Regions from separate parts of the Homo sapiens genome. Here region 2 is linked to region 1. A link means that fine-mapping ties the variant in region 1 to the plasma level of a protein whose gene starts in the linked region. Region 1 holds a variant in brackets. A gene starts in the other region. All regions are shown on their forward strands.

What was found. A credible set is the group of variants that fine-mapping cannot tell apart. PIP is the chance, under the fine-mapping model, that this variant and not a neighbour inherited with it causes the effect. The UK Biobank Pharma Proteomics Project read protein levels with antibody pairs (Olink). The fine-mapping took linkage between variants from a reference panel, not from the people measured, so its PIPs are less certain.
Region 2: it holds the start of STX3, and the variant in region 1 is the best candidate, but not a certain one, in a credible set for the plasma level of the STX3 protein (UK Biobank, PIP 0.85).

Annotation. Positions count from the first base shown.
Region 1 is chr2:24,054,513-24,070,027 of GRCh38, forward strand. It overlaps FKBP1B (FKBP prolyl isomerase 1B), which reads left to right. Exons shown (of 4, transcript NM_004116.5): 3 at 6,302-6,414; 4 at 8,552-9,169. The coding sequence ends at 8,680. SF3B6 (splicing factor 3b subunit 6) reads right to left here. Exons shown (of 4, transcript NM_016047.4): 3 at 13,809-13,947; 4 at 13,074-13,339. The coding sequence ends at 13,250. Among named protein-coding and RNA genes, the nearest start is that of FKBP1B, 13 kb to the left of the region's middle. RefSeq lists a silencer at 127-421 and an enhancer at 6,426-6,565. The variant G/A (reference allele first, on the strand shown) is at 10,216.
Region 2 is chr11:59,749,662-59,765,176 of GRCh38, forward strand. It overlaps STX3 (syntaxin 3), which reads left to right and starts at 5,715. Exons shown (of 11, transcript NM_004177.5): 1 at 5,715-5,974. The coding sequence starts at 5,945. RefSeq lists enhancers at 4,145-4,645, 4,335-4,629, 4,395-4,689, 4,626-4,785 and a silencer at 5,656-5,915.

The DNA.
Region 1 (15,515 bases):
TCATGAGCAGGTGTTTGTTCCAAGGGAGGTGAGCACCCTGCCTTGTGACCTGCTTCCTAAAGTGGCAAACTCGATGACAGCCACTTAGCAGACAGCAAGCCCAGGTTAATTCCTAGGACATACTCGGATGGGGCCATTTTTAGCAGTTCTGTGGGCCAGTGTGAAGCACAAGGTTAATTCTAGGCAGATGGTGTGGATGTTTTCAGCAGTTGTGTTGCTGGTCGCTGATGTCAGTGGGCTGGACCATGTTTTATCTCCTGGTGATGTGGCCTAATTACCATGGGTCGTCTGGGGCCTCTGACCTGTGTAATTGATTTAACAATTTTGCATGTTGTAGACAGACCAGTATTTATCAAGTTACTGAAACCACAACATCCTTTTGCAAAGTCCTTTCACAATACATACATAGGGCAGCAGCTCCTGTCTTGGGAGAGACTATGTCTTATCAAACATAGCGGGAGACTATGGGACTTTTGGTAAACTTTAAAGTTAAATATAAATATAGTAGAGAACATAATGTAAGATGTCTAGGTCAATGAATTTTTTCAAAGTGATCACATTTATGTGACTACCACCTAGAGAAGCATAGAACATACAAGCATAGAACCAGCATCCCCAAAAGTCCCCCTGATGCCTTCTCCCAGTCATTTCACCTCCCTAGAGGTAGCTATCATTGTTTTTCTTTTTTTTTTTTTTTTTGTCATTGTTGTTGTTGTTTTGAGACAGGGTCTCACTCTGTGACTCAGGCTGAGTGCAGTGGTGATCACAGCTCATTGCAGCCTCGACCTCTCGGGCTCAAGTGACCCTCCTGCTTCAGTGTCCTGACTAGCTGGGACCACAGACATGAGCCACCATGCCTGGCTAATTTTAATTTTTTGTAGAGATGAGGGTCTCACTATGTTGCCCGGGCTGGTCTCGAACGCCTGTATGCAAGTGATCCTTCCACCTTGGCCTCCTAGTGCTGGGATTACAGGTGTGAGCCACTGTGCCTGGCTGGCAACTATTACTCTGACTTTTGTCTCCATGGATTGGTTTTGCCTATTTTTGAACTTCATCTTAATGGAACCACAGCGTAGGTACTCTTTTGTGTTTGGCTTATTTCACTCACTATTATGTCTGCGAGATATATCCAGAATGGTTTATTCCTCTACAGTATTTTAACGTACAAGTATGTTGCAATTTATGTATCCTCTCTACCGTTGATGAACATTTGGGTTGTTCATAGTTTTTGTTTATTACAAACAGTGTCACTTTGATCAGTCTTGCAGGCATCTCTTAGTGTACATGTGTACAGACATATGTGCATGTTTCTGTTGGGTATATACCTGGAAGTGGGGTACCTCCTGGGCTCAGCGTTAGCAGTACTGTCTGACAGCTTTCCAAAGTCGTTGTGCCAGTTTCCACTCTAGGCAGCTGTGTAGGAGACTGCCAGTTACCCTGTGTCCTCCCCAACACTTGTTATTGTCAGGTTTTGGTTTTGTTTTGTTTTTTCTTTTTTTGAGACAGAGTCTATGTTGCCCAGGCTGGAGAGAAATGGCATGATCTTGGCTCACTGCAACCTCTGCCTCCTGGGTTCAAGCGATTCTCCTGCCTTAGCCTCCCGAGTAGCTGGGATTACAGGCGCCCGCCACCATGCCTGGCTAATTTTTGTGTTTCTAGTAGAGACGGTGTTTCACCATATTGGCCAGGCTGATCTCAAACTCCTGACCTCAGGTGATCTGCCTGCCTCGGCCTCTCAAAGTGCTGGGATTACAGGAATGAGCCACCACACCAGGCTTTGTTTTGGTTTTGGCCTACTCTGGTGAGCGTTCAGTACCATTTCATTGTGGGTTTTTTTGTTTTTTTTTTTTGAGACAAGGTCTCACTCTGTTGCCAAGGCTGGAGTGCAGTGGTGCGATCTTGGCTCACTGCAACCCCGCCTCCTGGGTTCAAGCGATTCTTGTGCCTCAACCTCCCAAGTAGCTGGGATTACAGGTGCGCACCACCACACCCAGCTAATTTTTGTATTTTTTGTAGAGATGGGATTTCACCATGTTGGCCAGGCTGGTCACTGTGGTTTTGATTTGTGTTTCCCTGATGATGAATGAAGTTGAGCACCTTTTCATGTGCCTACTGGCCATTTGGATATCCTCTTTAGACTGCTCTAATTTTGTCCATTTTAGAAAATTAGGTTGTCTTTTTCTTTTTCTTTTTTTGAGACAGAGTTTCACTCTTGTTGCTCAGGCTGGAGTGCAATGGCGCAATCTTCACTCCCTGCAACCTACACTTCCCGGGTTCAAGTGATTCTCCTGCCTCAGCCTCCTGAGTAGCTGGGATTACAGGTGTGTGCCACCGTGCCCGGCTAATTTTGAGGTTTTTAGTAGAGACAGGGTTTCGCCATGTTGGCCAGGCTGGTCTCAAACTCCTGACCTCAGGTGATCCACCTGCCTCGGCCTCCCAGAGTACTGGGATTACAGGTGTAAGCCATGGTGCCCGGCCGGTTGTCTTTTTCTTGTTGATTTATAGGAGTTTTGTATATGTTTTGGATATGAGTCTTTTGTTGGTTATATCTATCCCAAACATCTTCTCCCACACTATGGCTTGCCTTTTTACTCTCTTAATAGTATATTTTGAACAGAAGTTCTTTTTTTATAGTTTATATTTTCTTCTTTTCTTTCTTTTTAAAATTTTTTTCTTTCTTTTTTATTTTTGAGATAGGATCTCACTCTGTTACCCAGGCTGGAGTTCAGTGGCTCTAGTCTTCAGGGATCATGGCTCACTGCAGCCTTGACCTCCTGGGTTCAAGGACTCCTCCCATGTCAGCCTCCCAAGTAGCTGGGAGTACAGGAACATGCTACCATGCCTGGCTAATTTTTTTTTGGTTTTTTTTTGTGTGTGTGTGATGGAGTTTTGCTATCGTTGCCCAGGCTGGAGTGCAATGGCACGATTTCAGCTCACCACAACCTCTGCCTCCCAGGTTCAAGCAATTCTCCTGCCTCAGTCTTCCGAGTAGCTGGGATTTCAGGCATGCGCCACCACGCCTGGACAATTTTGTATTTTTAGTAGAGACTGGGTTTCTCCATGTTGGTCAGGCTGGTCTCGAACTCCCTACCTCAGGTGATCTGCTCGCCTCGGCCTCCCAAAGTGCTGGGATTACAGGCGTGAGCCACCGGGCCCGGCCACCTGGCTAATTTTTAGTTTTTCTGTAGAGAGGAAGGTCTCCCTATGTTGCCCAGGATGGTCTCAAACTCCTGGGCTCAAGTGATCCTCCTACCTTGGCCTCCCAAAGTGCTAGTATTACAGGTGTGAGCCACTGTACCTGGCCTGAACAGAAGTTCCTAATTTTGATGAAGTCTGACTTATCAATCTTTCCCTTTATGGTTAGTGCTTTCTGTGTTCAGTTTAAGAAATCTTTGTCTGTCAGGCCAGGTGCGGTGGCTCCTGCCTATAATCCCAGCACTTTGGGAGGCCAAGGCAGGTGGATCACCTGAGGTCAGGAGTTCGAGACCAGCCTTGCCAACATGGTGAAACCCTGTCTCTACTAAAAATACAAAAATTAGCCAGGCATGGTGGTGCATGCCTGTAATCCCAGCTACTCGGGAGGCTGAGACAGGAGAATTACTTGAACAACCCAGGAGGCGGAGGTTGCAGTGAGCTGAGATTGAGCCGCTGCACTCCAGCCTGGGTGACAGAGATGAGACTCTGTCTCAGGAAAAAAAAAAAAAAAATTGTCTCTAGGTCATGAAGATATCCTTCTATTTGTTATCTTGTAGAAGCTTTATTATTCTATCTTTCATATTTAGGTTTATGATTCATCTGGAATTGATTTTTTTGTGTGTGGATTTGGTAGGGGTTAAAGTTCATTTTTTCCCCATATGAATATACTGTTGACTCAACAACCTTAATGCAAGAAAAAAAAACCTTTATTTGCTGCATTGCAGTGGTATCTTTGTCCAATCAAATCACCATGTAAGTGGGTCTGTTTCTAGACTGCATGGTTTTGGCTTAACTTGTAGCAATAGATAAATGAAGTTATTTATCCAAAGTAGATTAAGTCACATGAAACCTGAAGAAACTAAGGAATGAGAAAGGAAAGTCGGTATATAAATGGAGTGTGTGAATGTGTGCATGTGTGTTTGCATATCTGTGTGCATATTTGTACAAGTATGTATCTGTGTGAATGTATGTAGATCTGTGTATGTAAATATTTTCTTAGCATCTATTTGGCCACCAGGGCTTTTCTCCTGAGTGTGAGTGCATAAGTGCATGTGAGCATGCACAAGTATCTTTGTGTATTTGAATATCTTAGCAACCTTAGCAAATGCATGCGATTGTATTTGATCTTGTTAGCATCCATCTGCATGTACCTCTGTGTAGCCAGAAGGGTTTTCTTCTTTGCCTCAGTTAGTACCCAGGGCAAAAGCTTAATGTATTCTACTCAGAAAGTAGTTAAATAAGACTGTTTCTCTAATATATATTTTAGTTGTAGGAATTAGGAAGTAGCATCATAGATGCTCCTACACTAAGCTGGCCCTGCTTCCTATGTTAAATATGACACATCTGAGGCCCTGGGAGAGGAAGTGATTTGCCCAGTCTCACACAATGAGTTAGAGCCAGAGTGAAGTCAAAACCCAGTCTCTGGATGTACAAGCAAGGTCTTTTTCTAGTCCCAAATGGCCTTTTGTGGTGGTCCAGGGACTGCCGGGAGCAGTCGTGGAACTGCATCATTTACAGAAGGTCTGATCTTTGAGTCAGAGTCACAGAAGAATTGAGAATAGCTGTTGGGCCTTGGGCTGCTGGACTGAGATGACATGTGGACATCAGGATGACAAGGCTTCTGAAGCAGAGGCTGGGGGAACCAGAACTGCTGGACCAGCACCTGGGGGGGGGTTCTGGTTTCAAACAGCCCTCTTAGTACAGAGTCTGGAGGCCACCTCTGACCAGCTAGGTCACCTTACACTGTTCCCTACAGTAGGGGATAATGTAACCTTTGGGTTTTCCCTTTTGGGGGAAACTTAGGAAACCTTAGGAACCTTATGCGAGGACTCAACCTGAGGCTGGAATAGCTGGGAAAACAGAACTTTAGGTGGAGGAAGTGGCATAAAAAAGTTGAAAAGTCTGGCTGGGCATGATAGCTCACACCTGTAATCCCAGCACTTTGGGAGGCTGAGGTGGGCAGATCACCTGAGGTCAGGAGTTCGAGACCAGCCTGGCCAACATAGCAAAACCCCATCTCTACTAAAAATATAAAAAAATTAGCAGGCATAGTGGCAGGTACCTGTAGTCCCAGCTACTCAGGAAGCTGAGGCAGGAGAATCCCTTGAACCCGGGAGGCGGAGGTTGCAGTGAACCGAGATCACACCACTGCACTCCAGCCTGGGCAACAGAGGGAGACTCCGACTCAAAAAAAAAAAAAAAAAAAAAAAAGTTGAAAAGTGCAGAGGAATTTGAGAAAGGTATGACCTGAAAAGGACACAGAGGGAAGGGAAGGAAGGGGAGAACAGAGAGGGTTATAAGCAGGCCAGAGCCGGATTGTGAAGTGCCTGTATGCAAGGTAGGCATTTGGATTCTGCTCTGGGGAGCTATTGAAGTATTTTGAGCAGGGGAGTAATAGAATCAGATTTGTGTTTAAAGAAAAAAAAAAATCAGTCTGGATGCCAAGTGGACAATGAAATGGAGGCGAGTAAAAGAGGATCAAAAAGACCAGTTAGGAGGTTGTTCCTGTGTACAGGTGAGATAAGCTGGTGACTTGGTCGTGGTAATAGAAACAAAGAAAAGGCCAGGCACAGTGGCTCATGCTTGTAATCCCAGCACTTTGGGAGGCCAAGGTGGGTGGATCACCTGCAGTTCAGGAGTTCAAGACCAGCCTAGCCAATATGGCAAAACCCTGTTTCTACTAAAAATACAAAAATCAGCTGAGTGTGGTGGTGGGCGCCTGTAATGCCAGCTACCTGGGAGGCTGAGGCAGAAGAATCGATTGAACCCAGGAGATGGAGGTTGCAGTGAGCCGAGATTGTGCCACTGCACTCCAGCCTGGGTGACAAATTGAGATTCTGTCTCAAATAAATAAATAAATAAATAAAAATAGAAATGAAGAAAATAGGTGGATTCCAAAGATATGGAGGACTTAGTGATAGGCAGTATGTGGGGGTGAGGCAGAAGGAAGTGTCCAGATTTCCTGCTTGGGCAACAGGATGGATGGGGAGGATCGGAAGAGGAGCAGGTGTGTGCAGAAAAGGCATTCCATTTTAGACATGTGGAATCTGAATTGGGAGTTTACTCATGACCACAGCTCTATTGCACCCGATTCTTGCTTTGACAGGAATGCTCCAAAATGGGAAGAAGTTTGATTCATCCAGAGACAGAAACAAACCTTTCAAGTTCAGAATTGGCAAACAGGAAGTCATCAAAGGTTTTGAAGAGGGTGCAGCCCAGGTAGGATGAGGATTCGCATTAAAGGGGATCTGGGGAGTTGGGGATCTGGGATCAGCACTCTGCCCTCCACCTCCACCTTCACCCACTCACAGACCACTACTGCTTTGACTCTACAGCCAGGGCATGGCAACGCCATCTGGTGTCCCCTCCTGGCTTTGCGTCCCCACCCCTCTCCTTGCCAGCATACCTCTTTTGTGTCCCTGGGGGCTCTCATCCCAAGCACATCCCCCTAGGCTTGCTCAGAACTAGCTGAGAGAGCCAGGCACGGTGGCTCACACCTGTAATCCCAGCACTTTGGGAGGCCGAATGGGGTGGATCAGTTGAGGCCAGGAGTTCAAGACTAGCCTCACCAACATGGTGTAACCCCGTCCCTGCTGAAAATACAGGCGTGGTGGTGCATGCCTGTAATCCCAGCTACTTGGGAGGCTGCGACAGGAGAATTACTTGAACCGGGGAGGTGAAGGTTGCAGTGAGCAGAGATTGTGCCACTGTACTCCAGCCCAGGCGATGGAGTGAGACTGTCTCAAAAAAACAAAACAAAAAAATAAACTAGCTGAGGTCTACCAGTTGCCTGGGACTGAGGTAGTGGAAGAGTTGGGGTGGAGTAGGCCAAGAAAATTTTTCGTTTTTTCGCTTTTTTGAAAAGAATTTCAGAATTACAAAAATATTAAAGAAATAGTACAGAGTTCTTCTATATTCTATCCAGCTTCCCCTTCTTGCATAACCATAGTACAATTATCAAAACCAGGACATTCACACTGATACAAATTACTTACTTATTCAAATTTTTGATTATTCAAAATTCAAAAGTAGATTTAAATTTCACCAATTGTCCCACTAATGCTGAGTGGGTTCTCAACAACTGCTGTGATGAGCCCTGGTTCAAGCTGTTCTTTCTTGGTCTGTCTGTGAAGTCCTATGATGCTCCCTTACGATAGGTCTTGTTTTTGGTGTTTTTTTTTAGAAAGAGTATCACTCTGTCACCAAGGCTGGACTGCAGTGGCGCAATCTTGGCTCACTGCAAGCTCCGCGTCCTGGGTTCACGCCATTCTTCTGCCTCAGCCTCCCTAGTAGCTGGGACTACAGGCGCCCGCCACCACGGCCGGCTAATTTTTTTGTATTTTTAGTAGAGACGGGGTTTCACCGTTGTTAGCCAAGATGGTCTCGGTCTCCTGACCTCGTGATCTGCCCGCCTCAGCCTCCCAAAGTGGTGCGAGCCACCGTGCCCGGCCTGTTTTTTGTTTTTTATTTATTTATTTATTTTGAGACGTAGTCTCACTCTGTTGCCCAGGCTAGAGTGCAGTGGCACAATCTCAGCTCACTGCAACCTCCTCCTCCCAGGTTCAAGCAATTTTCCTGCCCCAGCCTCCCGAGTAGCTGAGATTACAGGTGTGCACCATCACCATCACGCCTGGCTAATTTTTGTATTTTTAGTACAGACGGGGTCTCACCATGTTTGCCAGGCTGCTCTCGAACTCCTGACCTCAGGTGATCCACCTGCCTCGGCCTCCCAAAGTGCTGAGATTACAGGTGTGAGCCACCACGCCCGGACTTTTTGTATTTTTTAGTAGAGACAGGGTTTTGCCATATTAGCCAGGCTGGTCTTGAACTTCTGGACTCAAGTGATCTGCCCACCTTGGCTTCCCAAAAGTGCTGGGATTACAGGTGTGAGCCACCACGGTTGGCCACAATAGGTCCCCCTTGCCACCTTGCTGGTGACTCTAGTCTCTAAACCACTTTAAATAACTGCCCCTGTCACCTACTTGAGTATTTACGTGTGCTATTCATACACCCTCTTTTCCTAAAGAGGCCTATTCTTTGGAAGAGGGTGAACTATGAACAAATGGAAGTGTTTCAGTCATACACAAATTGAATAACCAGTAATGTTTGTCAGATGCATGAATTTGAGACCACTCTGTGAGGGTTACTGCCCCACAGTCACATCTCTGCTGAGGCAGAATCTGCGTTTGTTAAAGCTGTTAGCACGATTTCAATGTATCCCATGTAAAATTCATCTGAGATCTTCAGAGTTAACATTGAGGATGGTTTGGGAAAATGCCATAGTCATCTAACTTTTTTCTTTTAAATCAAGCTGGGTCCTCTTTCTCCTCTCCCCATCTGCCCCCATCCCTGCTAGATGAGCTTGGGGCAGAGGGCGAAGCTGACCTGCACCCCTGATGTGGCATATGGAGCCACGGGCCACCCCGGTGTCATCCCTCCCAATGCCACCCTCATCTTTGACGTGGAGCTGCTCAACTTAGAGTGAAGGCAGGAAGGAACTCAAGGTGGCTGGAGATGGCTGCTGCTCACCCTCCTAGCCTGCTCTGCCACTGGGACGGCTCCTGCTTTTGGGGCTCTTGATCAGTGTGCTAACCTCACTGCCTCATGGCATCATCCATTCTCTCTGCCCAAGTTGCTCTGTATGTGTTCGTCAGTGTTCATGCGAATTCTTGCTTGAGGAAACTTCGGTTGCAGATTGAAGCATTTCAGGTTGTGCATTTTGTGTGATGCATGTAGTAGCCTTTCCTGATGACAGAACACAGATCTCTTGTTCGCACAATCTACACTGCCTTACCTTCACTTAAACCACACACACAAGGTGCTCAGACATGAAATGTACATGGCGTACCGTACACAGAGGGACTTGAGCCAGTTACCTTTGCTGTCACTTTCTCTCTTATAAATTCTGTTAGCTGCTCACTTAAACAATGTCCTCTTTGAGAAAATGTAAAATAAAGGCTCTGTGCTTGACAAACTCCTGTCCATCCTTATTTTAGGTAGGAAGTGCTCTAAGGACCACACAAGCCAGGTGCCCTTGGGAAAGAGTGGAAAGAAAGGAGGGTTCCAAGTGGCTAGGTGAGTGATAAATATAATAGCTACAATGTGAGCATTTTACATGCTGGGCCTTGTTCTACATACTTTTTTATTTTATTTATTTATTTATTTATTTGAGATGGAGTCTCGCTCTGTCACTCAGGCTGGAATGCAGTGGCACAATCTTGGCTCACTGCAACCTCCGCCTCCTGGGTTCAAACGATTGTCATGCTCACCAGCACGCCTGGCTAATTTTTGTATTTTTAGTAGAGACAGGGTTTTGTCATATTGGCCAGGCTGGTCTCAAAACTCCTGACCTCAACTGATCTACCTGCCTTGGCCTCTCAAAGTGATGGGATTACAGGTGTGAGCCACTGTGCCTGGCTATATACTTTTAAATTATTACCATTGATCCTCTAAGCAACCCTGCACAGTAGATATTACCTGCCGCTCATCTCAGGCTCAGAATCCTCCTCTGCATAACTAAAGAAATATAGGCTCCAAATCTTGTAGCCTAGCAATCAGATGTGGGACTTGAGCACCTTATGTGCTCTTGCAATCTTTGTTTGGACTACAGCCAGAGGGATGAGCTCCACTCACCCAGATGGATACAGAACACTTTTTGTGTCTAAACAAATGAAGGTGTGTTAAGGGCTTGAAGTCGTACACTAACTCACATTGGGAAGTTCCTTGTGAAAAGAGTGTGTGATTCTGAGCTTGTTTTCACATACACTGCTTAGTTTCACCTAGATTTGTTCTGACTTACATTGAGGAATTACTTTTGAGAAGAATGTATGATTCTGAACTTGTTTCCACATATAGTGCTTATTTCATCAACATTTATTGTAACTAACCAGAAACACCAGTTAGGTTTTAAAATCAGCACACTTATTGGTGTAGGTTATATATAGGCCATAGGAGACTGAGGCAATATACTCAAACATTTTTCTTTTTTTTCTTTCTTTTTTTGAGACGGAGTCTCACTCT[G/A]TTGCCCAGGCTGAAGTGCAGTGGCATGATCTCGGCTCACTGCAAGCTCTGCCTCCCGGGTTCACACCATTCTTCTGCCTCAGCCTCCCGAGTAGCTGGGACTACAGGTGCCCACCACCACACCTGGCTAATTTTTTGTATTTTTAGTAGAGACGGAGTTTCACCATGTTAGCCAGGATGGTCTCAATCTCCTGACCTTATGATCCGCCTGCCTCGGCCTCCCAAAATGCTAGCATTACAGGTGTGAGCCATCACGCCCAGCCTCAAACATTTTTCTTTCAGTTGGTATAGGATGAGAAAAACTCCTGGCCATAGTTGGGGTTATTCTTTTTTTTTTTTAATCATTTATTTATTATTTTTAAAAAATAGAGATGGGGGAATCTCACTATGTTGCCCAGGCTGGTCTCAAACTCCTGGCCTCAAGCTATCTTCTCTCAGCCTCCCAAAGTGTTGGGATTATGGGTTTAAATCACTGCACTCAGCCAATACGGTTTTCTATCAGTGACGACTTCGAATTGTTTCAAGATTGAGGACGGAGGGGCTGATAACAGGTACTGTTAGTGTTCCTCATAGACCCACTGATACATGTCACATGATGTCATATATATGCTATGAGGCCATGTCATCTTGGCTACATGATCTACCTTTTTTGTCTCCAAGAAATCCTGGCTGTATTCCTTTGCTGAGGGTGGAGGAGCTAATGAAGAAGCAGTGCTTTAGGATGGAGAAAACGAGAGAAAGGAACTGCCTTGCATTTTAGTCACCAAAGTCCCTGTGCTCACCTCTATTGTGAGACTAGACCAGCCAGAGGGTATTTCCTTCAGAATGTCTTGGTTCCTGGCTTTCTTTGATGACTCAAATGCCTACAATAATTTCTCAGAAGTCAGCCTGCATAAAAGACATACGCATATTTTCTGCTGTGACACCAATAAGATAACAAAAGATGGCATCAAGGACTATTTCAGGTGCCCACTATGGGGCATATAAAAGATATTGGTCTAGAGTATTTATAACTGAGGTGGGTCAAAGGAGACACCCACTAAAAGAACTCCCCCAAAGTGCAAACACATACTGGCTAGCACCTGGAGAGGACAGGTGAGGCTCTGCAGGTAAACTGGGAAATGAACCATTTTACTGGAGCTCTTAAAAGATGATGCAGAAAATCATGATGCAGTATGCTAATGAGTCTGGACATTGGCCTATGAGAGCCACTAAAGCTGTTAAACAGAAGAGCAATAATAAGATCAAGGTCACATCAGTTGTTTTCAGACTTTCAGTCAATGAATTCTCTATTCCTACGAATTTTTTTCTTAGAAACTCAAAAATTTAACCCAGATGAAAGTAAAGCAGCTCTGGCACATGTGTGTGCACATATAAACACAGTCATCTGTTGCACTCTTAAAAGCATTTGAAAAATTGAGCTTTGGATGCCTTGCACAGAGGACCGATCATAATTATATCCTCAGCATCTTCGTACAGTACTGTGTGCAGAGTGGGAGTCAGTGTTTGTCCACTGAGTGCAAGTTCTTGTAACTTAATTGCGACAGGATATGGAATTTCCAAACAATTAGAGGGAAGTTTTAAGTCTTAACTTTAGGTCATGAAATTCAGCTAACAGATATATCAATCCAAATGATGGACTGGTCATGACTGCTAATAGAAGGAATTTCTCCTTGTTATTAAAACAACTACACCAGAGGCAAGCTAGCCTGCCACTTAGACAAATCACACTCTAAGTTTTAAAGTCTAATTTCAGTTTTTCTCTTACAAGAAAGTCTTTTAGAAAATTCTTTTTACATTACCTAAAGGCACACCGTGCATTACAAAAACTAATAATGCATTCATAAAAGCATTCAAAAGAAAATTACAGCTGTAGCTCCTTTCTTATCTTCCCACCCTTAGAAATGACTCTACTCTCTTACACTGCTTTCAAAAAACACTCAGATATAATTAAAAGCAGAATTGATGCTCTTTGTACATTGAAGTGATTCAGTGTATGTACCTTCAAATTGATTTTAGGTTCCAATCACACACAAAACAATTAGTCCATGTTTTTCCATTTGGTCCATGCCTAAGCAATAAAAAGCAAATTACGGCTATATTCTCCCAAGCTGCCATGATGATGAATGGGGTAATAACCATACTGTTTCCATGTCATGGGAACTCATGATAATAAGAATGAGCATTAAGTATTTATGGCAAAGATATATTATGAGCTAAGGTCCAATATACCTACAGATACTTAATAACTAAAGGAAAAGTCTACATAAATACAATCTTAGACATGTAACAACCAACGCCACTACCCAAGCAGCTTGCTCTCAAATTTCTACCAATGTGACAATTATTATGTACCCATAATAATTAAAAAACAATTTAAAGAGGCAAATCTAAGTTTCTAACAATGTACTATCATCTAAATGACCATTTCTATAATAGACCTCTGTTCTAAAGACAAGGGTACCCATATTGACACAGGTGTTTTGTTAACTATAAAGCAAGCATTATTCAAATGTAAAGGCTTGGTTAATAACTGGTTGTTATCACACCAGCTTTGTATGTTAGCATTTTATTCATTCAACCAACATCATGAACTTTGGTTTCCTCACCTGCAAAATGCAAATACCTATCTTCACTGAGTTGTTATGAAGATTTCATTATTAATGGACATGCAATAAACAGCAAGTTCCTTTGATGGCTAAGCACTGCACCGGGCCCTGGAGGCATTAAGAATGTAAAGAGATCCTGTTCTCAAGAAACTCAGAATCCCTAGGAGCACCTACAATTCTTGATAAGCTTCAACTGTTTTTTCCTGGTATCAAACAGGAAGGGAAAGTTCAAGAGAAAAGACTGAGGTGTTTCACAAAAAGCTACAAGTTTATTAACATAATGTATTCCAATATGTATCAAAGTTTCAAGCAGGTCATTTTGAACCTCAAATAAGAAATCACAATATTTAGTATTAATTAAAAAGGAAAAAAAGGTGGTAGTTGTCATTCGTGGGATTTAGTCCAAATGAAAATGTAGAAAACATTTATTTTGGTGGATCTGTGTTGATGCCATATTTCTCCTTGAGAAGCTTCAACTGTTCCTCCTTCTTCTTTGTGTCCATCTTCTGAAATGCCTGGAAATGTGGTAAGCACCAAAATTAAATTACCAATCTACAGCCAAATGAATTTCATCAATAGCATTAGCCAAAAAAGAAAGTCATAGTAGACATATATCATCACAGTACAGTTCTACACTAATTCTCTTGAGACGGAGTCTCTCTGTTGCCCAGGCTGGAGTGCAGTGGCGTGATCTTGGCTCACTGCAGGCTCCACCCCCTGGGGTTCACGCCATTCTCCTGCCTCAGCCTCCCGAGTAGCTGGGACTACAGGCGCCCGCCACCACGCCCGGCTAATTTTTTGTATTTTTAGTACAGACGGGGTTTCACCGTGTTAGCCAGGATGGTCTCGATCTCCTGACCTCGTGATCCGCCCACCTCGGCCTCCCAAAATGCTGGGATTACAGGCATGAGCCACCGCGCCCGGCCAGTTCTACACTAATTCTCAAATGAGATCACTACACAATGAGAACTTTGCTATACTTACCCTGTTGGCATTATAGTACAAAACCACAAGGTATCTGTTACAAACATTGAATCCCGATAGGTGATCACATGCATTCTTGGCATCAAAGATGTCCTCATAGACCACATAAGCTGTTCCTCTAGTTTCAGGTGTGTTCCCCCTGGAGAGGTAAGTTAAACTTAATTAAGATATACATTTACCTGAGCATTGATAGTTGACTTACAGAACTGTCTTTTAAACTGGTAACTGTCTTTTAAAAACAGTAAATTGAAATACGTTTTTAGTTAAGTATTTTGAAATCAACCTGAAACCATCAGAGGAAATAAACATGGATAGATATACCGGATAAGCCTGTAATTTCTTGAATTAGGTAATTTTGTTCTTCGTTTTTATCTTAACTAAAATATCCATAGGTCAAGCTGACTGTCACATCAGGAATACTAAGAACACAGCTACTACACAGAACAGCCTCGTGAGTTGTGGGGACTACAGGTGCTCTTGCCACCCTGACTGGCTCTACGTTGTCTTTGTTTTGTTTTGTTTTTGTTTTTGTTTTTGTTTTTTTGAGATAGACTCTCACTCTGTTGCCTAGGCTGGAGTGCAGTGGCACAATCTCAGCTCATTGCAACCTCTGCCTCTCAAGTTCAAGTGATTCTTGTGTCTCAGCCTCCCAAGTAGCTGGGACTGGAGGCATGTGCCACCATGCCCAGCTAATTTTTGTATTTTTAGTAGAGACAGGGTTTCATCATGTTCCCCAGGCTGGTCTTAAACTCCTGACTTCAAGTGATCCGCCTGCCTCAGCCTCCCAAGGTGTTGGAATTACAGGCATGAGCCACCACACCCGGTCTACATTCATTTTTAATACAACTCAAGTGCTAATGCACGATACAGCTGTGTGGCTAGGGAGAAGGGCTAGGCTTCTGCAAAGATGGGAGTGGAAGTGTGCTTGTGGATAGGGTTATCAGTGAGCCAGGGCAGAATGCTGGAAGGTGGCTGGAAGTGGAAGCTAACCTTACTTATGGATACGAGGTTGCTGTTAGTGTAGTTATTCCTGGCCACTTCCTTCCTTCACCTCACCAACTTCCTCTGGGAGAGGTAGAGAAGTTTGAGGAGCAACGCAACGCTAAATTGCAGGCAGCAGGTGGCCATGTGACTGTTAGTGGAGACAATGGGTAGAGGTCCCACTCAGTTCAGGCTCTGGGTGACAAGATGGCCCCCTTGCCTCCATCTGTGTTCCAACCACCCAGTGCAACTGTGGAATGAGGTTTAAGACTGTGGGCTGACTCTCCATCTGCCACAGTCCTTACATAGGGTTGAATAAAAGCAGTGGAGCCATGGGAAGAGGAGGTACCTGCCTAGACTTGATCTAGGATAGGACTATAGTCTGGGCCCTGTTCAAGCTTGTGCTTCCTGTAAAATTGAAAAGGAATAGGGTACTGGGGGTGATTGGAGGGTGCCACTGTCAATGAATGCGCTCACTTTGTCAGGTTGTGTGGGCCTGACGAGGGGTTTTAGAATGTTCTTTAGGCTCTGGCAAGTCTTAACAACTTTCAGACTTTTGACTTCTAAAAACTTAATAAGATTTTCAGTTCCTTAAGAGCAAAGGTGATCTTATGCGTACTTCATTTATTCCTTTAGTGCCACGCATAAGGCAGACGCTAATACGCCTTTGAAAAGTGGAGATCTACTTTCTTCTATCAGTTCTCTCACACACACTTTGTTCAGGAA
Region 2 (15,515 bases), not on the chromosome of region 1:
GTGTTTTATACTGTTAGTTCTTAGTTATATTATTTTTGAAAAGTCATTTTCCATTTCCCAGCCTCAGGTTCTTCACCTCCAAAATAGAGATTAAACTACCTGCAGGATCTAAATTCTGGGGGTACTTCTGAGGATCAATAGATATATTAAGTGAAAGTACTTTGTGACTTTTAAAGGGAGATATGGGCGGGGCACAGTGGCTCACGCCTGTAATCCCAGCACTTTAGGAGGCTGAGGTGGGTGGATCACCTGAGGTCAGGAGTTCAAAACCAGCCTGGCCAACCTGGTGAAACCCTGTCTCTACTAAAAATACAAAAATTAGCCTGGCATGGTGGCGGGTGCCTATAATCCCAGCTACGTGGGAGGATGAGGCAGGAGAATCACCAGGAGGCAGAGGCTGCAGTGAGCCAAGATTGCACCACTGCACTCCAGCCTGGACAACAAGAGTGAGACTCCATCTAAAAAAAAAAAAAAAAAAAGGGAGATATGGCAGTAAATGTGGTTATTGCCATCTTCATCATCATGTAAAATCTGCCCTACCTTGGATTTATCTCCAGATGTTGTTCTCAGGTTCTCAGCAGGCCCAAACAGTGCACACGTGGGGCTAAGCCAGGAATAGGATTCAAATGAAACTGGGACCACTGAGTTTGTGCTTTTTTTTGAATTAATAATCTTTCATCCTAATTTCTATTCCAGGGAAAGGTGATGGAGAAAATATCGGAGTCTTGGAGTTTCGGTAGCTTCTCTATTCTTGTTTTTTTTTTTTTAGATAAGAGTCTTGCTGTGTTGCCCAGTCTGGAGTGCAGTGGTGCAATCTTGGCTCACTGCAGCCTCCACCCCCCGAGTTCAAGCATTCTCCCGTCTCAGCCTCCCAAGTAGCTGGGACTACAGGTGCCACACCACCAGACCTGGCTAATTTTTGTATTTTTAGTAAAGACGGGGTTTCACCATGTTGGCCAGGCTGGTCTCGAACTCCTGACCTCAGTTGATCTGCCCACCTTGACCTCCCAAAGTGCTGGGATTACAGGTGTGAGCCACCACACCCGATCTCTTTTCTTACCTTTATACCAGAGCTTATTGGTCTCCATATGAATCACTGGCTCTGTATCAGTCTGCCTCCAAACTGTTCTCCCCACGACTATTCATTCCCCTCCCCTTTCTCCCGCAAATGTGTGGTCATGATTCCCTAAGCTGAGGGATTTATTTTGCGATGTTTTCCAAACTCTTTTTTCTTTGGAGGACGTCTTGAAGTGGGTTGTGTTGTTGAACTTATGTTGATAAATGCAGCATTATGTTGGAGAATGCTGAACTTATGTTGGAAAATGCTGACTCTGAATACCAAGATGGTTATTATTTTATCTGTGAATGAAATATTCCAGGCATTTCTCAGTTTCCCGTGCTCTCTGAAAAAGCAGTGCAGTTATAAAGGGTTAGCAGACTTTTTTTCAAGTTATTGAATTACGGAATTAACAATTCTCGTATATATTAACTCACTTATCTTCACAAAAACCCATGAAATGGGTACTATTATTATTATTTATCATTATTAGTTTTTTGAAACAGAGTATTGCTCTGTCACTGAGGCTATAGTGCAGTGGTGCAATCTTGGCTCACTGCAACCTCCTCCTTCCAGATTCAAGCAATTCTCATGCCTCAGCCGCCTGAGTTGCTGGGATTACAGGCATGAGCCACCACCCTTGGCTAATTTTTGTATTTTTCTTAGAGACAGGGTTTCACCATGTTGGCCAGGCTGGTCTTGAGCTCCTGGCCTCAAGTGATCCACCTGCCTCAGCCTCCCAAAGTGCTGGGATTACAGGTGTGAGCCACCACGCCCGGCTGAGATGGGTATTATTATTATCTTTGCTTACGGATAAGGACATTGAGGCACAGGGGCATTAAATCAATTGCCAAAGGTCACACAACCATTAGTGGTAGAACTGAGATTTGACCTGGGTAGTTTGGCTCCACAGCCTGGGCAGGCAACCACTGCCTTTTGCAGCATGTCTATCAGCATGCTATGTGAGCTTGGGAAAATCATCTTATTTCTCTGTACTTAATTTAATTTATAATAAAATGGGGATAATAATATGTACCCTAACTCCCTCCCTGAGTGATTGTGAGATATCAGGACAAAACAAAGTTATAAAAGTGCAGTAAAATTCAGTATGGCTATTCAAACATTCAAACGAGGAAATACATTAGATGGCTTATTTCTTTAATTACAAGGAGTTTAAAGCCACAATTATCCAATTGCCCTTTATCTGTGCTTCATTATAAATATCCTGTTCCTCTTTTTAAAGGAATAGATATACTTTTAATTTTTTTTTTTTTTGAGACATGTCTCTCTCTGTCACCCAGCCTGGAGTGCAGTGCCGTGATCATAGTTCACTGCAGCCTCAAAATTCTGGGCTCAAGCAATCCTGCACCGCAGCCTACTGAGTAGCTGGGGACTGCATGTGAGCACCACTATACCTGGCTAATTTTTTTTTTTTTTTTGAGACGGAGTCTCGCTCTGTCACCAGGCTGGAGTGCAGTGGCGCAATCTCGCCTCATTGCAACCTCTGCCTCCCGGGTTCAAGCAATTCTCACTGCAGCCTCCACCCCCTGGGTTCAAGCAATTCTCCTGCCTCAGCCTCCCAAGTAGCTGGGATTACAAGCACACACCACCACGCCCAGCTAATTTTTGTATTTTTAGTAGAGACGGGATTTCACCATGTTGGCCAGGATGGTCTCGATCTCCTGACCTCATGATCCACCTGCCTCAGCCTCCCAAAGTGCTAGGACTACAGGCGTGAGTCACTGCACCTGGCTCGATTTATGTATGTTTTGTAGAAATGGGGTGTCACTCTGTTGCCCAAGCTGACAAAGAATTCTTATTATTATTATACTTTAAGTTTTAGCGTACATGTACATAACGTGCAGGTTTGTTACATATGTATACATGTGCCATGTTGGTGTGCTGCACCCATTAACTCGTCACTTAGCATTAGGTATATCTCCTAATGCTATCCCTCCCCGTTCCCCCACCCCACAACAGTCCCCGACAAAGAAATTTTAACACAGTTGAAACTGTACAACTATGGAAGGTGCCACCTTGGGAATGTCTGGAAAAACTAAAAAAGTTAAAATGGCAAAAACTCCAAAAATTATTGGGTGTCCTGTGGCATGCTAGGCCTTATCTAAAGCACCTTTCTGGATTACCTGATTTTTTAGTGATTTTTGCCTTATAAAATCTTGCAGCTATTTTCCAACTTGGTAAGTTGTAGAAAATTCATAGGAATGCCAATGATTCTTGTCCATAGAGATGCCTGGTAGAAGTGCAATTGCTCTCCCAGCACCCCGAGGCCAGTTCTGCATTTATTATTTATTTTTATTAAAAATATAATTTTTAAGACAGAGTTTTGCTCTGTGGTCCAGGCTGGAGTGCAGTGGTGTGATCTCAGTTCACTGCAACCTCTGCTTCCCAGGTTCCAGAGATTCTTCTGCCGCAGCCTCCCGAGTAGCTGGGATTTGTAGGCGTGCACTATCACGCCCGGCTAATTTTTTGTATTTTTAGTAGAGATGAGGTTTCAAGATGTTGGCCAGGCTGGTCTTGAACTCCTAACTTCAAGTGATCTGCCCGCCTCAGCCTCCCACAGTGCTGGGATTACAGGCATGAGCCACTGCACCCGGCCAGTTGTGCATTTATTAACATGTTCGTTTCAGCATTCCTGATTGCCTATATATGTGTGTACACTTTGTGTTTTCCTCTGGACAGGGCTAGCTTTACTGGTCTCCTCATTCATTAATGAATTAAAGTCTTTGATGTGTGTGCATTTTATATTTGTAGAGGAGTCATGATTTTACTCTTTTCAAAACAATTATCCTGTAACAGGAACCCTCTGAGCAGAGGCAGACAGGCCACCCTTGATTCCTGCTGTGGAAAGAGAATTTTTTACTCCAGACCCCAATGGTCCTTTTCAGATTCCTAACGTGAAGGGTTGTTCATATCTCGGCCTCTCGCGGAAGACTCTATTTTCTTGAAGCGCGGGGAACTACGTATTCCCACTAACAAAAATCTGTTAAGGGGCAGGGCGCAGTGGCGCACGCCTGTAATCCCAGCCCTTCGAGAGGCCGAGGCGGGCGGATGGCTTGAATACAGGAGTTCCAGACCAGCCTGGGCAACATGGCGAAACCCTATCTCTACGAAAAAAACACAAAAATTAGCCGGGCGTAGTGGCGCACGCCTGTAATCCCAGCTACTTGGGAGGCTGAGATGGGAGGATGGGTTGGGCCCAGGGGATCGAGGCTGCAGAGAGCGGTGATCGCGCCACTGCACTCAACTTGCGCAACAGAATGAGACTCTGTCTAAAAAACAAACAAACAAACAAACAAACAAACAAACAACCCCCAAACTCCCCAAAAATGTGTTAGGGGAAGGAGGTGGGACAGTGTGTATTTCTGATCTACTCGCCTTTCCTAGTATGACCACCAGGGGGCGCGGAAGCCCTCCTGGTACTAAGGCGGGGACAACCTGCCCAGCGAGCACAGCGGGCAGAAGGAAGTGTGCCGGACGCGAGAGAGAACTACGGCCGAGACCCGCGGGGCCGGCTCAAAGCCCGACCTCTGCCATACGCACCGTATCTTTATGGGAGCCGATGAGGTCAGCAGGGAGCACGCGTTCAGATGGCAGAAGAGGGCAAAGTACTGCTAGAATTACAAAGATATTTACAGCTTTTTAACCTGAAAGCACAGAGCAGATCCTATTCTTCAGAATTAAATCTTCGGCTCGCCAGTCCCGTTTATGGATCTCCACTCTGATGAATGTGCCATTTGTTCCCAAGAAGACAAATAGGGTAGGGAGAAGAGGGAGAGGCGGGGAGAAGACTCGAGATAAAGGGACGATCTGCTTTTCGGAAGCAGAAGCCGCCTGGGAACCACCTGCACACCAAGCAGGCTGCGAGGACGGGGAGCGCTCCAGTGCAAAGTTCTGTATTTTAAAGCCCCTCCTCGCTCACAGGCTTCACAGCGAACTACGAAGTGGGTACCATCTCTGATTTACAGACACGGGAACGGGGTCCTCTTGAGAAACGATGCTTTCCCAAACGTCTGCAAATTGTGAGTGCCAAGTGTCTCCACTGGCACTAACAACATCGAGCTGCTTACGTTTCTCGGAGCGGTCCCGATTTCCAACAAGCAAAAGATCCAAATTCTCTGACCACCCTGACCGTCCTGTATCTCCAGATCTCCAGGTCTTTCCTCTGGACACCTCCTCCATCCCCCCACTTTCACTGCCAGCAGCCCTGAGGCTGCGCGGGATCCCGCTACTCGGAATGCCTTCCTCCTGGCGGGATATTTTTAGAACACTCGACTGCCACCCAATGTAGCCCACATCACATTGTCTTATTTGTTTTCGGGAGCTTGTCCCCGCCTAGCAAGGAGTCGGCTAAGAACTGGATCCTAGCGAGGAGCCCGGCACAGACAGCGAATGACCGCAGCCAGACAGTCGCTCTTGCTCTTCCTCGGCCCTGCGGCAGGATCCGCCGGTGCAGGGGCCTCTCCCCGGACTCCACGCGTGTCTGGAGGGCTCTCGGGTTAGGGAAGGGGGCTTTGGAGACGCCCCGGGCGGCCGGGCGGTGGCGGGACGCGGGCCCTTTAAGAAGGAGCGAGGGGCGCGGCCAGGTAGGGGCGGGTCCAGGGCGGATCAGCGCTGCGCCGGCGCCGGCCCGGGAGCCGGATTTGGAGCGCGAGGCGCCGGTGGGGGCGGAGGGGGCTGCGCGGCGGAGGCTCCCGTGGCCTCGGACGCTCCTCCTAGCTAGCGGCCGCCGCCCGCCGCCGCCTGCGCCTCCAGCTCCTTCGCCCCGGCGGGCCCGGCCGCCGCTTCCGGCAGCTCACCTGGGAAGCGCTCACCTGGGACGCGCTCACCTGGGACGCGCTACCTGCCTCCGGGCGCCTGGGCTTCAGGATGAAGGACCGTCTGGAGCAGCTGAAGGCCGTGAGTTTCGCCGCAGGCGGGGTGCTGCCAGGAGGGGTGCTGCATGGGAGAGGGGCTTCCCTTTGCTCCCCAAGTCGAGGCTGGAGGGGGGCCCGAGCCGGAGGCTTGCCCTCCCCAAGCCCCCACCGCTTCCCGCGCCGGTTCCGCACCCTCCCCTCCCCTCCCCTGCGGGGTCATGTGCCCGGTGATTCATCGCTAGGCAATGATTTTCCTGAACGCCTCTAACTCTCCCACCCCGCAAGCTGGACAGTGTCTGTCCAGAGCTGGTTCCCGAAGCGGGTGCTTGGGCCCGGGAGGTCAGGGGTCCCTTCACCACCTGCCCACTGCTGCCTGGCACTATGCCCAGGACCAGCCTCCTTCTCCCTTTCCTGTTTCTCTCCTGAGGTGCTACAGGCCTGGCTGCCCCTTCCCCCAGGGAGCAGCTCAGAGCTCTCTGGTGACCTCTGGAGCTGTGAGCCGGTCACATGCTGGGATGGGTCAGCTCCTCTCCAACCGGTGGTCTGTAATTGTTATCCCCGGGTGTCATTGTCCCCCCCTCCCCCGCCGTATCTTTTGGAACAGCTGTGGTTAGGTCAAAGGATCTGAAGGTAGACTACCTCCAGCCTTGGCTGCGCAAAAGCTGTAAAGCCTTAGGTTACTTACTGTGAGTCTCTGTTTCCTTATCTATCAAATGGGAATGATCATACCCTAGGAATTTGTTGGGAGGATCAGCTGATACAATGGAACTTGATACAGAAAAGGGTTAACGCATAGGGTTTTAAGCCAGATATTCATTGACTCATTCAGTACATAATTATTGAGTGTATTCTATGGGGAGGTCCAGTGCTAAGCCTTGGAGATTCAGTGGCACAGGTTCTACCTTAATAGAATTAAAATCTAGCCCTTGACACTCAAGAGTTTAGTCCATCTACTTTGGAGCTTGTTACAAGTGTAGCAGCTTAGGCCTGAGTCTAGCCCCGCAGAATCAGAATCTAATTATTCATCCATTTCCCCAGGTGATTCATGGGCACATTACAGTTTGGGAAGCACTGGACTGGATTAGAACTGGGGTTGTCTCCTGGCTCCACTGCTTACTGGTGATCCCTTAAAATCCCAGCCTAAGTTTTGTCATTTGTAAAATGGGTAGTTGTAAGGTCGAAATGCAACAGAAGATGCTTAAGAACACTTTTAGGGTGCATGGCACGGGGGACTTAATAAATGGTGAAATATGCTAATAACTGTGAGTGCTCTTGGGAAAATGCAGATGTCAGGGACTGCTGGGATGATGTTACAAGAGTTTATCCTTTTTCTCCCTTGCTTGGATGAGACCTTCATTCCTGTTTCACCTGTTCTGTGTAGCAGGGCTGCGGAGGAGGCAGGTAGCTGGGGAAGTGAGAGAAGCAAAGGGACAGTTGCCTATTGTGGGAGTGGCCTCTCTGCCTCAGGCTTGTGCTTAGTCATCTCAGCCTCACAGCGTCCAGGTTACTGATGGGGCAGAATTTATTGCCCCTGTTTTTATAGATGGGGAAACTGCTGCTCACGGGGTAGGAGGGATGCTCCAGGACACAGAGCCGGCCAGGGCACCACCAGGAGAGGAACCCAGGCTCTTGACACTCTCCACAGTGCTCCTTCCCTTGAAGCACGCTGGTTGGGGAGGCAGAAGGAAAAGAAGAGCACGATTTTGAAGATCTCTCTGTGTCGGCACACCCAGCAACCATAAAAAAGTACAAAACTGAACAGCAGGCTCTTCCATTTATTAGGAAATCCACTTCCAGAGGAAGATACTCCATGGCCCCTTTCAGTAGCTCATTGTCAACAATGAGCAAAGAGTCTTAACTGAGCTTTGAGTTCCAAGAATAAATTTAATTTGCCTGGGGACGCTGAGCAAGTCTCTTTGCCTCTCCTCGGTGCCTCATGGTTACCCTCTGTACAATGGAATTAATGATAGGTTTCCTCCCCTTCCCTCTTGGGGATGTGGTGAAAGTGAGACTGGAGATGGTGGTGGTATTATGGGAGGATTGTTCTGAAATCACAGGGTGGCTTCTGTAGCGTCTTGGAGCAGATGCATGGCAGCGTGGGACAAAGGGACACAGGTGGCAGGTTCCAAGACTGATCACTGTGCTTCTTTGCGTCACTTCTCTGCTTCTCAATTCCTCCTTTATACAACAAAGAATTGAGTTGATCTCAGAAGCCCCCTCTGGCGTTATTATAGGTTTTTCTTTGAAGACTGTTAAGGTTTATGTGGATTTTGGTGTCAGTTCACCTCCTCTTATCCCCTCTCCCCAGCCAGACTCCCAGGGATCACCCTCACTGAAACAAGATATGCGTCTTCTCCCTCTGATTTCCGTTATCAATTAGAAGCGTTTGTTAACCTGCATGAAACAAATTGCACATTGAGCAGCCTATGCAATCTCTTTCTGTGGTGTTCTTTCTAAATCCTGGGGAGGGGAGGTGGTAACTGCCTCCCGATAACTGGAGGGCTTTCCGTGCCTGTGATTGACTTTGTTCTGGGTAGATACAAAGAGAACATGTGGGGTTGATGGGTAGAAATGAGGAATCTGTAAGAAAGCGTTTTTAGTAGACAGAGCTGCCCAAGGATGGAGTAGATGGTGCACCCTCCAGCATGGGAAGGAAGCAAGAAGCTTGTTGGGATTTTGAATGTTGTAGGAATTTGAGCATCTCTTGGAGGGGAGGTGAACTAGGAGATATAAGGCCTTCACCAACCTTAAGAATGTGTGGTTTTATAAAATGCTTAATTGTGAGCCTGTCCTGAGGCTTTGAAGTCTACAGGGACTGAGGCCTCAAGAGTTGCCCCTGTAAAGTGGCTCATCACCCTTTTCCCATAGGATCATTGTGAGGATAAAATGAGATAATCCGTGACAATCACCCACCACTGTTATTGTTAGTTCCTCTGTCTTGGCCTGCTGGCAACAGCGTCCACACAGAAGGGCATCCCTTCCTGAGGCCATGGTCACAAGATCTGACTCACCTGGTCTCATCTCATCTCTTCTCTTGCACTGCTCTTCCTGGTGGGCTCCCTCGACAGCCTGCTTTTTCAGTGACACAGGACAGGCTTGCCAAGAATGTGCAGTGCCTCTACCCAGCCTATCCCAGGACATGGTTTTCTCTGACTTCTCAGCAGCTGAACTTTGAATCTGCTGAGTCCAGACAGTTCCATGCTTTTGCATGGCCCTGTTTTCATTCAGCAAACATTTGCTGAGTACTGAGTACCCACTGTGTGCCAGTCCTTGTACTAGATGCTGGAGTGTAATGGTGATAAACGCATGTTCCTGGCCCTTAGAAAGTTCATGGTCAGGTAGGAAGAAACAGAAGAAATAGACATGAGGATATCATCCTTGTGATAGAAGCAACCACAGGAAGACCCTGTTGGCCAGTCTTTGGAAGATGGGAGATGGGCATGAGGCTTTGGGTGGGTTCCCAAGAAGTAGTAATGCTTGAGCTCAGCTGATTCTTCCAGCCCAATCTGACCTTTTCAGATATGTAAAGGTGGTTGGAGATACATAAGTTACTTTACGTACCAGATAAGTAAAGAGACCTTGTATCTAATCCTCTCAACCCTGCAAAGCAGAGTGGGTTTTTCTATTATTCTCATTCTGCAAGTGAGTGAATTGAGGCTTAACAAGAAAGGCAAGGATCCTAGATTGTCTTAATCACTCTCGCATTGGTGTATAAACCATCAAGCATATAAACAACTCAAGGGAGCATCAGCAGGGTCGCATGTGCATGGTACCTGCTGACCACCATGATCAGAGCTTTGTGACCTCTGTGTGCCTAGCATCCTGCTGGGCGTCAAGTTTAGGCAGGATTGACAAAGTCCTAGTATCAAAGGGTAAATGATCACATAGGGAAGACAAAGACATGTAGTATATGACAAGAGGGCCAACAGTAATCAAAGCCATATGGTGGTAATGGAGAAGCCAGTGATGTATGGAATAGAGGTTGAAGGCTTTGGACTCCCTTGGAGACGGATCTGTAGAGGACTGGAAATGACGTGGATGTAATGGCCCTTCAAAGACCAGCACTAATAAGGACACACTAATGAAATCAACCACCTGGGGCTCTAAAGGCCAGACTAACTTTTTACTCTCTCTGTGTCTTGCTGCTTCCTAAATGGCTGTTATTGGCCTCCTTCCCCACTGGAAGCTCCAGGATCTTTGTGGAATCATAGTTCCTTAGGATAACATTATAACCCCATCAGCAACATGGAGCTGTGTACTTCTCCTTTAAAGCTTAATTTGTTAATAAATATTTATCGAGCCGCTTTTATGTGCCAGGTGCTTTGGATCATAACTGAACCTTAACATACCAATCTGCGCTTCACTGAGATTCTGTCTTTCTCTAGTCATAAAATTTCATTCAAGTCAGGATTCCTGCCTCCCCTCTTCTCTGTACCTGGGAGGATTCATTCTCTGGAAGAGCTGTTTTTCTGTGAGCAGACGGGAACCAGAGCTGAGAGTGATGGGGATTGAGTAGGGATTACAGCCCCATCAGCCGGAGGCCAGAAAATGCTTGGATGAGAGAAGAGGATTAATTTTATTTTTATTCCTGTGAGTGTGGGGGAAGTCGGGGGAATTGGCAGGAGCTAAGGGAGGGACACTTGTTCATGTTGTCCTCTCTCTCTTCCAAAGCTTCCTCCCTGCCTTTTGTCAAAATTTCTACCCATCTTCCAAAACTCATTTTTTATAGGTAGTAGTGTTCTGTAACTGCAACTTAGAATACTCTCCTCCATTCTTGCAGCTCTCACGGGGTGCATGTTGCTTTGCAGTAGGTTGTGGGTTTTTTTTTTTTGTTTGTTTGTTTTGTTTTTTTAATTACCATGGAGTGGGTTTGAAACCACTGTCCGTTGCTTTTTATAAGTTAGACCCTTTATCCCCTTTATCTTCTAGGTCCTTTTGTCTTTAAGGTCAGTGTTTCTAGTACTTCTTGTCACCACATCAATTACAATAACAACAATCATTTATTGAGCAGCTACTATTGGACAGACTTGTGCTACATACCTTACATACCTTGTCTCTAATTCTCTCAACCCTGCAAAGCAAAGTGGGTTTTTATATTATTCTCATTTACAAGCAAGGAATTGAGATATTATTCTCGTTTTACAAGTGAAGGAATTGAGTCTCAGGTTTGACTGAGATCCCCATCTGGGAAGTGGTGGGCTCAAGAATTGAACGTGTGTGTCTTGCTTCTTCGTATCCCCTTACACTGTATTCGATCATCTCCCTAACTGCACTATATGCCTCTGATGCAACAGCAGTTATGATAGTCCTCTGGAGCCCCAGGGCCTAGCACTCTGCATGGTAAGCCTGTATTAAACATTTGTCTCTTAGTTGATTAATAACAGCTTGACCCTTACACATCCTTTACTCATTATTATGACTTATTTTTCTTGCTCCATTCCCTGTGGGCTGGTGAATCTTTACCTACCTGAAGTGGAACATTTACTGAGGGAATCCATATGTTTGCTAATGAAGCCAGACCTTACAGGTCCATCCCCAAGGACGGAGTTCCAAGGCTCCTAACTACACCTAAACACCTAGCCCAAGATGACATGGAAGGTTGCCCCTATTTAGAAAGACAATGAAGGCGAAGATGTGGCTACCATGGTGAAAACTTAGGTACTCCATTTTTCTCCTGGCAAAATCCTACATATCTCCAAAGTCTCAGTTCCAGTGTCATCCAGCTTCCCAGGCTGACAGCACTGAGCATGCCTTTCCTCGGACCCCGCAAACTTTACTTTTGGTGGTGTATACAAATAGCCACATGGTATTGCAATTTCAGATGCCACTGGCTCTGTTAGTTCTTGTGCTCTGGGAGAGCACAGACCACATATGTCTCATTCTCTCTTATACCTTCCCAGCCCAAAGCCTGTAAAGCTGTAAACCAAACTGTCCTGTCAATGAATGGGGATATTCTGTAAATTTATTTGCCCGCAGATTCTGTAGTCCCTGAGGGGCCTTACCTCCAGCCACCTTTATGTTAGGCCCCTCTGCAACTGCCCCCACCCCATCTCCTCTCTCAGGGTAGCCTGCTTTTTGGCATTGGACCATTTCCATGGCAACTTTCCCCAGTCTCCATCTGGAAACTGAGTGAAGTTCAACCCCCCACCTAAAGAGATTAGTGGAGCAAATACTGTCTGGTTATGTTCAGCTGTCTGGGTTAGGACAGCTCAGTATGGCATCAGGGTTTTTTTTTTTTTAATAAATTTTTAAGTTTTAGCCTACTTTTAGATTTATGGAAAAGTTGCAAAGATAGTACAGAGAGTTCCTGTCTAGTCCTCTCCTGGTTCCCTCACTTGGTCTCATTTTATACTACAGTGTACACTTAGCAAAACTAAGAGACTTATATTGGTACATTACTATTCACCCAACTCCATACTTTATTTGGATTTCACTAGTTGTTCCACTAATGTCCTCTTTCTGTTCTAGGATGCGATCCAGGACACCACATTGCATTCGGTTGTCACATCTCCTTAGCTTCCTCTGGCCTGTCTGACAATTGCTTAGTCTCTTGTTTTTTGTGACCTTGGCGGCAGGGCTCCGGCATCTGTTTTCTAGTGCTCTGGAAGCACATTTCCTGTGGCCAGTGCTACATGCTACAGCTAGGGTGGTGGTGGAGCAGCCGTTAAGAGGCAACACTCCAGATGGCTGAGGACAAAGTCCCGGCAGCCAGCTGCCCAGGCACCCCTCCTAGCTCAGGTGCCCACTGTCTGCAGGATCTTGGTCAGGTTGCTTGGTGTCTTTATGCATTAGTTTTCTCAGCTGTAAGATGGGGAATATCCCCAGAAGACTGGCCTAGGGATTAACTGTCATGGTCAATAGAAAGCACACATCTTAGAAGGATCCTCACTCAGCACATGTTGAGTGTTTAATGAAGGTTGCGCGTTGTCACTGTTATTTAAGTATTCTAGAATGACCATGAGGGAGAGGAAGCTTGTGGGACAGAGGCTGAAAGGAGGGGTTGGGGAGAAGGCTGAGGATGGAGTAAGACAGTATTAGTTCCTTTCTTCCTCCTCTCTGTGTCCTTGAGAACTGAATGCCATGGTGGTGTCCAGAGGCCAGGACAGGAGACAGGGGAAGGGAGTGGAAGAGAGGGAAGAAGTGTGGGGTGGAGGAGGAAGGATCTAAAGGACACCTGAGATCTCCAGGAGGAAGAAGAAGGCCTTCTTTGAATCTCCTTGAATGGCTCCTGGGATGAGAAAGAAAGCAGGAAGAAGGTCTGATCTCCTCACCCTGAGTGGCCTTCTTGTAGGTTTCATTTGGGTAAATCCACACATTCCACAAAATTTCTCCAAGGAGTCACTTCTGCCAACATTCTCTAATAAGCTTCCATCTTCCCCAGGCTCAACCTTGAATTCAGGCAAGGTTGGGCACTGCGTCTTCTCTTGGGTGTGTAATTCCTTGGGCTAAAGCACTGTCCTCACGTGTCATGTGGTATTGTATCGCATGGACTGTTGCTTGGCAGATGTTAGATGTGCAATAAATACTGCCGGATGAAAGAATGAACAAATGAATCTGTTACTTTGCATGGAACATTGTGGCTGTGCTGATGGGTGATGAGACCTTGAGATGCCTCTCTGAGTTAATGAAGGAGTGAACATTGGATTAGACCACCCAGGTTTCTAATCTTGGCTGTGTTCCTTACTGTGTGATTCTGGATGAATTAACCTTCCTAGCCACAGATTCCTTGTTAGTGTACATAACATCTACCTAGAGGGCCTTTTCCCCCTCTTCTTCCTTTCTTGGGAGTTTTTGTCTTTCTTGTCTAGACCCACCTCAGGTCTGGAGAAGCAAAAGCAGGTAGGATGGCATGTGAGGATTGGACTTCAATGATTTTTGTATCCGACAAGCAGAATGCAAGTTCTTTTGAAATACGCATAGAAGATTAAGAAATACCATGTATTAAGACACAAAGAAAATGCCAAATCTCACAGAATAAAAGTCATATAGGCCGTTTCCTAACAGTGATACAATTAGAAATTAATACAATAATTGTCCTCCCCAGGCTAATCCATATTGGAAATGTAAGAACGCCTTTCTAAATAACTCTTGGGCTAAAGATAAATCAAAGTAGAAATGACAAACTATTTAGAAATAAATGATCGGCCGGGCGCGGTGGCTCATGCCTATAATCCTAGCACTTTGGGAGGCCGAGGCAGGTGGATCACCTGAGGTTGGGAGTTCAAGACCATCCTGGCCAACATGGCGGAAACCCTGTCTCTACTAAAAATACAAAATTAGCAGGGCATGGTGGCGCATGCCTGTAATCCCAGCTACTTGGGAGACTGAGGCAGGAGAATCACTTGAACCCGGGAGGTGGAGGTTGCAATGAGCCAAGATCAAGCCATTGCACTCCAGCCTGGGCAACAAGAGCGAAACTCCGTCTCAAAAAAAAAAAAATAAAAGGAATGATCACAAGAGCGGTAAATATCAAAATTTGGGAGAAGTAGTGGAAGAAGAATTGAGAGGGAGCTCTGTTTCTTTAAAAGCATATAGTAGAAAAATGACAGATTTAAAGCACATGAGGTAAATGCCAATGAATACATGAAATTCTCTCCTCCTGAGACATCTAGTGTCACCATCTAAGAATTGGCATTAGAATTGCATCTTTGCCAGAAACTCTTAGCAAAAACAAGGCCCAATTTTCTGCTTTAGATAACATGATCTTGGGCATTTAATATGTGCCTAGCATTGCTCTAAACATGTCTCCTGTGGTACTGATTTAATCCTTGCAACAATTCTATGAGCAGATTATTCTTGTCATGTCACAAATGAAGAAACTGAGGCACAGAGAAGTTAAGTAATCTGTTTAAGACCATATAGCTATTAAATGGTAGAGCCAGGTTTTCAACTCTGTATCTCTGTAGAGGTACAGAGATACATCTGACTGCCTGAGTTGGATTATATACACTGGTATCTTTTTCACTCATGCATATAGGTTAATCCAACTTAGTTTTATGGATGTTGTGGTATCCCCTGAAATAAGCGAGAGCGTGTTCACTGAGCCTGAGTGGGGAGGATGCCTTCAAGTGTGTGTAGTGGGGAACAGCAGAAGCCCTGGGCTCCCACAGACTTGCCTGTGAGTCCTAATGAGGTCGTTTATTAGCTGAATCATTTTGGATGAATTATTTAATTAAGCAGTTGTCTTATCTGGAAATGGGGAAAGTAATATTTGTCCCTCAGAGGGTTGATGTGAGAATTAATACATTTGAAACCACAAAAGTGCCTGCAACAACACACACACACATTATCTATTATTATTATTATTATTATTATTATTATTATTATTGTTAGGGCACACTGAGTGGAGTGGGGTCCTCAGGGACCTTGGCTCTTGTCCAGTTGTCCACTGGCTCACTGGCCTTGGGCTCACTGATAGGATTTATTCTGCAGTGTCTTCATCTTTCAAATAGGGCTAATTCTTTCCTCAAGTTGTTCAGCTAGGGCTTTCTTCAAAGTAAAAGCATGAGGCTCACTTAGGATATCATTATCTGTCAATCTCCTCTTGATTTCATCTGATGAGTGTGTTGGGGAAGATGGAATTA